Linked DNA regions of Homo sapiens: regions 1 and 3 are each linked to region 2. Evidence: fine-mapped expression QTL. A gene starts in region 2. Each other region holds a variant in brackets. All regions are shown on one strand. Distances are between the middles of the regions.

Evidence for each region. PIP is the estimated chance that this variant, and not a neighbour inherited with it, causes the effect.
Region 1: its variant is fine-mapped to the expression of TUBGCP2 in whole blood (INTERVAL, PIP 0.97).
Region 3: its variant is fine-mapped to the expression of TUBGCP2 in whole blood (INTERVAL, PIP 0.98).

What each region holds. Positions count from the first base shown.
Region 1 is chr10:133,343,199-133,345,948 of GRCh38, forward strand. All of the region lies in intron 5 of ZNF511-PRAP1 (ZNF511-PRAP1 readthrough), which reads left to right. It also overlaps the pseudogene BANF1P2. Among named protein-coding and RNA genes, the nearest start is that of PRAP1, 2.8 kb to the right of the region's middle. The variant G/A (reference allele first, on the strand shown) is at 1,470.
Region 2 is chr10:133,307,647-133,310,396 of GRCh38, forward strand. It overlaps TUBGCP2 (tubulin gamma complex component 2), which reads right to left and starts at 1,226. Exons shown (of 18, transcript NM_006659.4): 1 at 1,177-1,226. It overlaps ZNF511-PRAP1 (ZNF511-PRAP1 readthrough), which reads left to right and starts at 1,268. Exons shown (of 9, transcript NM_001396060.1): 1 at 1,268-1,450; 2 at 1,744-1,817; 3 at 2,130-2,331; 4 at 2,518-2,642. The coding sequence starts at 1,298. It overlaps ZNF511 (zinc finger protein 511), which reads left to right and starts at 1,268. Exons shown (of 6, transcript NM_145806.4): 1 at 1,268-1,450; 2 at 1,744-1,817; 3 at 2,130-2,331; 4 at 2,518-2,642. The coding sequence starts at 1,298. RefSeq lists enhancers at 403-632, 1,356-2,051, 1,459-1,753 and a silencer at 863-1,712.
Region 3 is chr10:133,264,826-133,267,575 of GRCh38, forward strand. ADAM8 (ADAM metallopeptidase domain 8) reads right to left here. Exons shown (of 23, transcript NM_001109.5): 21 at 2,527-2,592. Among named protein-coding and RNA genes, the nearest start is that of ADAM8, 11 kb to the right of the region's middle. The variant G/C (reference allele first, on the strand shown) is at 1,276.

The DNA of each region.
Region 1 (2,750 bases), 36 kb after region 2:
CTCTGTGTGGATGCAGTTTTTAAGGTGCCCGACCTTTACTTCCCACCGGCTGTCTCCCGTCTCCTGAGTGTGAATGCACAGACTTGTGTTGGGCCAGAGGAATGGGGAGGTCAGCTGGGACTGTGTGGGAACCTGGGGAGGCTCCCTGTGCCTTTCTCATTCCAGACCTGATCACCCCATTCAAGTTCGGGCTGGCCTGCCAATCACTGCTCATAATCCCCTTGGGGACCCCAGTTCCCTGAGCCACTGGCCTTCTGCTGCCTCCCCCGTGGAGCCACTCGGCCACTGAGGGGTGGGTGGGAGTGTAGCTGCCCAACAGGCTCATTCTGCTTGCTGCCCAGAGAGAGCCGATTTATCAGGGCAGAGAGAAACTGCAACACGGAAAGTTTAATTCACGCGGAGCCGGCTGAACGGGAGGCTGGAGCTTTATCACTACTCAAATTTTAAAGGATAATTTGGTGGGTAGGGGTTGGGAAGCAGGGAGTGCTGATCGGTTGGGTTGCAGATGAAATCACAGGGAGTCGAATCTGTCCTCTTGTGCTGAGTCACTTCCTGAGTGGGGGCCACAAGACCAGGTGAGCCAGTTCATGGATCTGGGTGGCACCAGCTGTTCCACCAAGTTCAGAGTCCGAAAAATGTCTCGAGCACCAATCTTAGGATTTACAATAGTGATGTTTTCCCTAAGAATAATTGGGGAGGCTTAGAATCTTGTGGCCTCCAGCTGCCTGACTCCTTTTTTTTTTTTTTTTTTTTTTTTTGAGACGGAGTCTCGCTCTGTCACCCAGGCTGGAGTGCAATGGCGTGATCTCTGCTCACTGCAAGCTCCGCCTCCCAGGTTCAGGCCATTCTCCTGCCTCAGCCTCCCGAATAGCTGGGACTACAGGCGCCTGCAACCACGTCCGGCTAATTTTTTGTATTTTTAGTAGAGACGGGGTTTCACCATGTTAGCCAGGATGGTCTTGATCTCCTGACCTCGTGATCCGCCTGCCTCGGCCTCCCAAAGTGCTGGGATTACAGGCGTGAGCCACCGCGCCCGGTCCTGCCTGACACCTAAAACATAATTTCTTTTTTATTTTTCATGAAAGCCACTGACTTTCTTGATCTAAAAAACTTTACAAGGACAGTGACTGTTCTGCCAAAAAAGGAGCCAAATAGTATCAAATGGACTGAAAGTGAGGGTGGAGGTGAGGGACGGGGCCAGGAATCCATTCAGGAAAGCTGGTAACTGTCACCAGGGAAAGTGAAAAAGGAAGGGGGAGACATGCAAGAGTGAGAGTCCAAAAAAGTTGAAATGGTTAGGGGAGAAAACTCCCAAAAGACCCAGAGTGCGTCAGACGTGAGTATGACAATAGCAATCTTCTCCTTTGTAGAGGACAGGGGAGGAGTCCCGACTCGGCTACAAACTCTGGGTGAGGGCTGGGGATTGAGAGCTTCCTGGAGAGCATCACAAGAAGGCATCGCATGCTCTC[G/A]AAGGCATCCGAAGTCCCGGGACTGCTTGGTGTTGGCACCACGAGTCCTTTGGCCATTCCCGGAACAGGTCTTCATCTTTCCTCAGCACCAGAAACTGGCCAAGGACAACATAGGCCTTGTCAAAGCCCCTTTCCTCCAGCTTCTTGCCCAGGACTTCACCAATCCTGGCCAGGCTCCCCACTAGCTTTTCCCCCATGGGCTCTGCCCTGAAGTCTCGGTGCTTTTGGGAGGTTGGCATCTTGATCAGGCTTAATCGGCAACTTCAGTTCCCGTAACGGTTCCTCCCGCCACCCGGCCGCTCCGGCCGATACCTCAAGCCACTAGAAGTTTCCTAAACCATAATTTCTAATCTTGTGACTAATTTGTTAGTTTTACAAAGGCAGTCTGGTCCCCAGGCAAGAAGGGGGTTTGTTCAGGAAGGGGCTGTTTTCATCTTTGTTTCAACATTAAACTATAAACTAAGATCCTCCCAAAGTTGGTGTGACCTACACCCAGGAATGAACAAGGACAGGTTGGAGGTTAGAAGCAAGGTGGAGTCGGTTAGGTCAGATTCACTATCAGGTTTTCGCAAAGGTGGTTTCAGGAGCAGCCCCAGGCAAGAAGGCCAGAGGAACATCTGTTCTCACCCAAGCCCAGCGGCTTCTTCGGGTGACCCCTCCTCAATAGCTCAGACGCTGTGGGTCACGTTGGAAATTCCTGAGTTGGCCTTTCTTGAGGGCCCTCACTCCACCCCCTTGGAAGCACGGCCTCCAATTGTGTCTGAACATGCAGCTTCGGGAGAACCATACCCTGCAGGCCGGCGGTCTCAGAGCCCCCAACAGTAGCTGCCCGCTGGGGGTTGTCGAGGAAAAGAGTGAAACCCTGTAAAATACTTGGAGAGTGATTCTGAGCCAAATATGAGTGACGGAAGGCCCATGATGCCGTCCCAGGAGATCCTGAGAACATGTGTGGCCCGAGAGGGTTGGGGTGCAGCTGGTTTGATACATGTTCGGGACACGAGACATCACTCAGTACGTGGGAGATGTACATGGGTTTGGTCCAGAAAGGCGGCGGGTGTCCAGGTCATTGGTGGATTCAGTAATTTTCCAATTGACAATTGGTCAAAAGAGTTAAGTTATTATCTAAAGACCTAGAATCAATAGAAGGGAAAGTCAGGGTTAAGATAAGGTGTTGTGGAGACCAAGTATATGCAGATAGAATCAATAAAAGGGACTATTTCTTGTCAGAGTCTGTTCTATTAGTCTTAAGGTCTCTGTTTTAATGTTAATGCTGGTCAGTTT
Region 2 (2,750 bases):
AGGCACGAGAATCGCTTGAACCCAGCAGGCAGAGGTTGCAGTGAGCCCAGATCGCGCCACTGCACTCCAGCCTGAGCGACAGAGAGAGACACTATCTCCAAAAGAAAAAAAGAGAAACGTATGGTTACATGATTTCCTTCTGTGCGATCATCAGAGTCACTCGCAGACCTGGATGGTGTACGGCCTACAATGCACCTAAACCACCTAGAGGAGCCTCTTGCTCGTGGGCTACAAACCTGCCCAGCAGGTGGCGGTGCTGAACACTAGACAACTGTAACACAGAGATATTTGTGTATCTAAACATGGAAAAAGTACAGGGGCAGGCATGGTGGCTCACGCCTGCAGTTACAGCTCTTTGGAACGCTGAGGCAGCAGGACCACTTGAGCCCAAGAATTTGAGGCCGCAGCGATCTATCAGCTATGATCGCACCATTGCACTCCAGCCTGGGTGACAGACGAGAAAGCTAAAGCCTCTATCCGCCACTGGGCCCATTCTCTGCAGTAGATCTGAAGCGTCCACTGCTTCCCGCGTGTGTTGTCATTCACCATTTTAATTAGGTGACTCTTTACTCTGACGTCTGTCTCTCCTACAAGGCTGCCGCGCCCTCCTGTGATGCCTTCCCCCACACGCCCTGAGCACCTAGCACAGGTCCTGTGTTTCACGGGAGCTGCGGGGACTGGAGAGGTCGACAGGACCCCGACAAACCAGGAAAGGGCCTTTGAACTAAAGTAACGGGAAGTCACCCAAGGGCTTTAAATTAAAAACGGTTACAATAAAACTGGAGTCACTTTGGCTCCAGTTCGCGACTGGTTTAGAGGGAACAAGATCCAGGGACTGCAGCGGGAGACGACAGGCGGGGCAAGGCGGACGGGAGAGGGCGTGCGAGAGGGGGACCTGCGACCCGGCTTCCCAGGGCTGGGAGGGGACACCCGGGACGACCCGGAGGCCCGCTCCGCCCCGCCCCGGCTGAGTGTCGGGCCGCGGGGCAAGACGCTGGCCTGGCCGGTGCAGGCCCGAAGGGCTTCGGCCCCAGAGTTCGGGGACCGCTGCACAGCCAGAGGGAGCGCGCGGGAAGAGCCGCGTCCCGCCAGCCCCGTCGCCTCGTGGGCCCCCCCGGGCCTGGCAGTCCCCCAACCCCCTCATCACGCCCGCGCCCGCGTTCGGCCAGGACTCACCGCAGTCCCGGAGCCACAGCCCCCGCGCAGCCCCCGACGGCGGCGGAAGTGAGCGTGACGTCACGTCCGGCTCGGCTCGCGGACGGTGGCCGACAGGCTGCGCCCGCCCGCGCCCGGGGTGATGCAGTTGCCCCCCGCGCTGTGCGCCCGCCTCGCTGCGGGGCCCGGGGCGGCGGAGCCGCTGCCTGTAGAGCGGGATCCCGCGGCTGGGGCCGCGCCCTTTCGCTTCGTTGCGCGCCCCGTGCGCTTCCCGCGGGAGCACCAGTTCTTCGAGGTGCGTGAGCAAAAGAGGGAAAAAGTAGTTGTAGGATCCAGTGGGGCCTACGGCGGCGAGGCGGGGCCGGAGCCTGGAGTGGGAGGGGCCTACGACTGCGGGGCGGGGCCGGAGCCTGGGACAGGCGGGACCTGAGGTGGTGGGGCGGGGCCGGAACGTGGAGTGGGCGGGGCCTGAGGCTGTGGGGCGGGACCGGAGCGCGGGATGACTGGGGCCACGGGTGTGGGCGAGGCCTGACGCGGTGGGCGTGCCGCGAGTCACCTGGCCCCGCCCACGGCGCACTTTTCCTGCAGGATGGGGACGTGCAGCGCCACCTCTACCTCCAGGACGTGATCATGCAGGTGGCCGACGTGCCTGAGAAGCCCAGGTAAGCGAATGGGCAGTGCCTAGCCAGTGCTACTCCTGCGCCGCCTCCCTGACCGGTGCCTGGTCCCTGGGGCTGTGCTGCCGCTCTTCCATGTGCGGCCGCCCCACCGAGGCGCTGTGCCTGTCCAGCTTTGGCGTGGCCGACTCTTCCACCACCTAGCCTGTTTGTGAAACTTAATTCATAAAAAGAGGGTTTGGGATTGCAAAAGATGCATAGGGGCTTTATTGGACGTCTCAAAGGGAAACTGTGCAGAAAGTCCAGCTTGGTTCCTCGCACCGGAGGAAGGGCTCCTGAAGCACGTCTCCTTGGCAGGGTGCCCGCGTTTGCCTGCCAGGTGGCCGGCTGCTGCCAGGTGTTCGATGCCCTGGACGACTACGAGCACCACTACCACACGCTGCACGGAAATGTTTGCTCCTTTTGCAAGCGGGCCTTCCCTTCCGGACACCTGCTGGACGCCCACATCCTGGAGTGGCACGATTCGCTCTTCCAGATCCTGTCTGAGAGGCAGGACATGGTGGGTGACAACTGCACAGCCGCCGAGGCCACCCCCCATTGGTGATGGGCTCAGAGTGCTGCCCCCAGCTCTCGGGTGCTCGGGCAAGGCCGGGGACACCTTTCCGCCCTTGGCAGCTCTGCTACGGGGGCATGGCGGTGGGGGAGGGCCAGGGGTCAGAGGGAGGTGACACGGTCTCCATTTCAGTATCAGTGCTTGGTAGAAGGCTGCACAGAGAAGTTCAAGACCAGCAGAGACCGGAAGGATCACATGGTGAGGATGCACCTGTACCCCGCGGACTTCCGGTTTGATAAGCCAAAGAAAAGCAGAAGGTAGGGAGCCGCCAGGCTCAGCACGTGTCTGCTTTTGATTTTAGGAAAAGGTTTCCAACTAGCCGGAATGCATAGACGGTCAGACTTATTAAGCACTTGTGTGTCACC
Region 3 (2,750 bases), 43 kb before region 2:
CCCGGCTCCTGCTGCAGCCTCTGCCCCATCTACCTCCACGCCTGTTCCTGCTGCAGCCTCTGCCCCATCTACCTCCATGCCCAGCTCCTGCTGCAGCCTCTGCCCCATCTACCTCCACGCGCAGCTCCTGCTGCAGCCTCTGCCCCATCTACCTCCACGCCTGTTCCTGCTGCAGCCTCTGCCCCATCTACCTCCACGCCCGGCTCCTGCTGCAGCCTCTGCCCCATCTACCTCCACGCCCAGCTCCTGCTGCAGCCTCTGCCCCATCTACCTCCACGCCTGTTCCTGCTGCAGCCTCTGCCCCATCTACCTCCATGCCCAGCTCCTGCTGCAGCCTCTGCCCCATCTACCTCCACGCCCAGCTCCTGCTGCAGCCTCTGCCCCATCTACCTCCACGCCCAGCTCCTGCTGCAGCCTCTGCCCCATCTACCGCCACGCCCGGCTCCTGCTGCAGCCTCTGCCCCATCTACCACCACGCCCGGCTCCTGCTGCAGCCTCTGCCCCATATACTGCTATGCCTGGTAACCATAACTTCCTTGGCCAGAAATCTCTCTGCCCCCTTCAGGCCCCCATTTTGCCTGTCCAGACCCCTTCTAGGACTATTTCTGCAACTCACGTACAAGTCTGAAGTTAGTTCAAATAAAAAGTTAAAAAGGAAAGAGAGAAATAGAAAATCACTATTAGGGCCGGGCATGGTGGCTCACGTCTGTAATCCCAGCACTTTGGGAGGCCAAGGCAGGCAGATTACGAGGTCAAGAGATCAAGACCATCTTGGCTAACACAGTGAAACCCCGTCTCTACTGAAAAAAAAAATACAAAAATTTAGCCAGGCATGGTCGCGGGCACCTGTAGTCTCAGATACATTGGGAGGCTGAGGCAGGAGAATGGCATGAACCTGAGAGGCGGAGATTGCAGTGAGCTGAGATCGCGCCACTGCACTCCAGCCTGGGCGACAGAACGAGACTCCATCTCAAAAAAAAAAAAGAGAGAAAATCACTATTAGGCAAACAGCACAGAACAACTATTGCAGCCAATATTCACCAATGGATGCCAAAACTAGTGGGTCCAAGCTTAAGGTTCAAAGAGTCTCAAGGTATCTCCCTGAGGCATCTGCTCACTATAAAAAGAAGACAGGAGCTTTCTAAGGAAAAATCTGTGGACGCTGCTCCAACTAGGCGCTGTGTCAACATCCCCCGTGACCGAAGCTGCATGTGGGCCAGGCCTGGGCTGTGCCTGGGGAAGGGTGTGTCCAGTGCTGCCCCCGCCAACAGTGCA[G/C]GGCCCTCATCCACACAAGGAAAGACGGGACAAACCCAGGCTGAGGGACTCTGAAAACACTGCTGGCCACACTTCCAAAGGGCAAGCTGAGGAAAGGCAGAGGGGCCGGGGGCTGAGTGCCTGGGGGGACCATGGCTGGAGAAGGGCGTCCAGAGGGAGCAGGCGGTACTGACTGGGTCGCATTGGTGACGTGGAGCCTCGGCTGCGCGCCCACACTGTGGCCATTCGGGAGCAGGCCAGGCGAAGGGCATGCAGGATTCTCTAGGCTATTTTTGCAACTTTTCTGTAAGTCTAAAATTTGTTCAAAATTAAATGTTAACAAAAAAAAAGCCTCAACCCAGAGGGCAGGGGCTCTCCTGCCCCAGGTCTTCCATGCACAGCCCAGTCCTAGGGCTGACCACGAACCTCTGTGGAGGGGGTCCCCGGAGATGCACCGTGGGACCTCTTCACACAGGCACCTCCCCAGCCCCAGCCTGCCCGCCACCGTCCTGCCCTCTCTGAGGACAGAGGCTGCTCACAATGTCCCGCAATGCCAAGTGGACCTCGATGGTACCACTGGGGCCCCGTGCCAGGCCCCAGAGAGAAAGCCTGGCCCTTTCTGCTGCCCTAGCTGAGTCAGTGGCCCCAGGAAGGGAGCTCAAGGGTCCTTCTCCACCCACTGCCAGAGCGGTTTCCCAGGGCTGAGGCCAATGAGCTGCCCCCACGGGGTCCAAAAAGGGCTCCAAGGTTAGCCCAGAGGTGGGAGCCAGGGCGCAGGGACAGGACCCCAACCCTGGGGGGACACGGAGGCCTGGGAGTTAACCCTCAGCATGCCAGGGCTCCAGTGATTCGGGTTTTGAGAGATCTTTCCAAAACCCCCAAAGCCCCCAAACCCAAGGGAAGCGCGGAACGTGTCCCTGCCCTGAGCCCACCCACCCATCTGTCCTGCAGGGCCCCAGGGAGTCCTCTTCTCTGCCAGAGCTTCAGCTCTGGGAGGGGCTTGGTGGGCGGAGCAGGTCTGAGTGGAAGGAGAAGGAGCCAGGACCCCCAAACCAGCTCCAACGCAGGGCAGGACTGAGCTCCTGCCTTCCTGTGGCCTCGCTGACCTGCCTTTCTGTCTGATGTCCTCACGAGGTCGGGCTAACCAGCCTTCTGTGTACAGCAGGGGCCACCTGGGGATCCCTGGCCCCCGGTGCAGTGCACAGACCCCAATCCCATCAGGAAGGCCTGGACACCCTCAGAAGGCTTGGCCGCCCAATCACCACTGCTCACCTGCTTTGGTGCCTGCCGGGTGTAGACAGGAACTGGGAAGGGTGGGCTGGACACAGTGACCGGAGGCTGGAGGAGACAGGGCCGAGAGCCTGGGTCAGAGCTGGGACCCCCGTGCCCCTCCAGCACCCCCAGCTCCAGGATCCGAGGTTCCTGCCTCTTGTGTGTGCTGGAGGCGTCTGCGCGGCCCACAGGGCCCCACCCCAGATGAGAGGCCCCGCCCCATT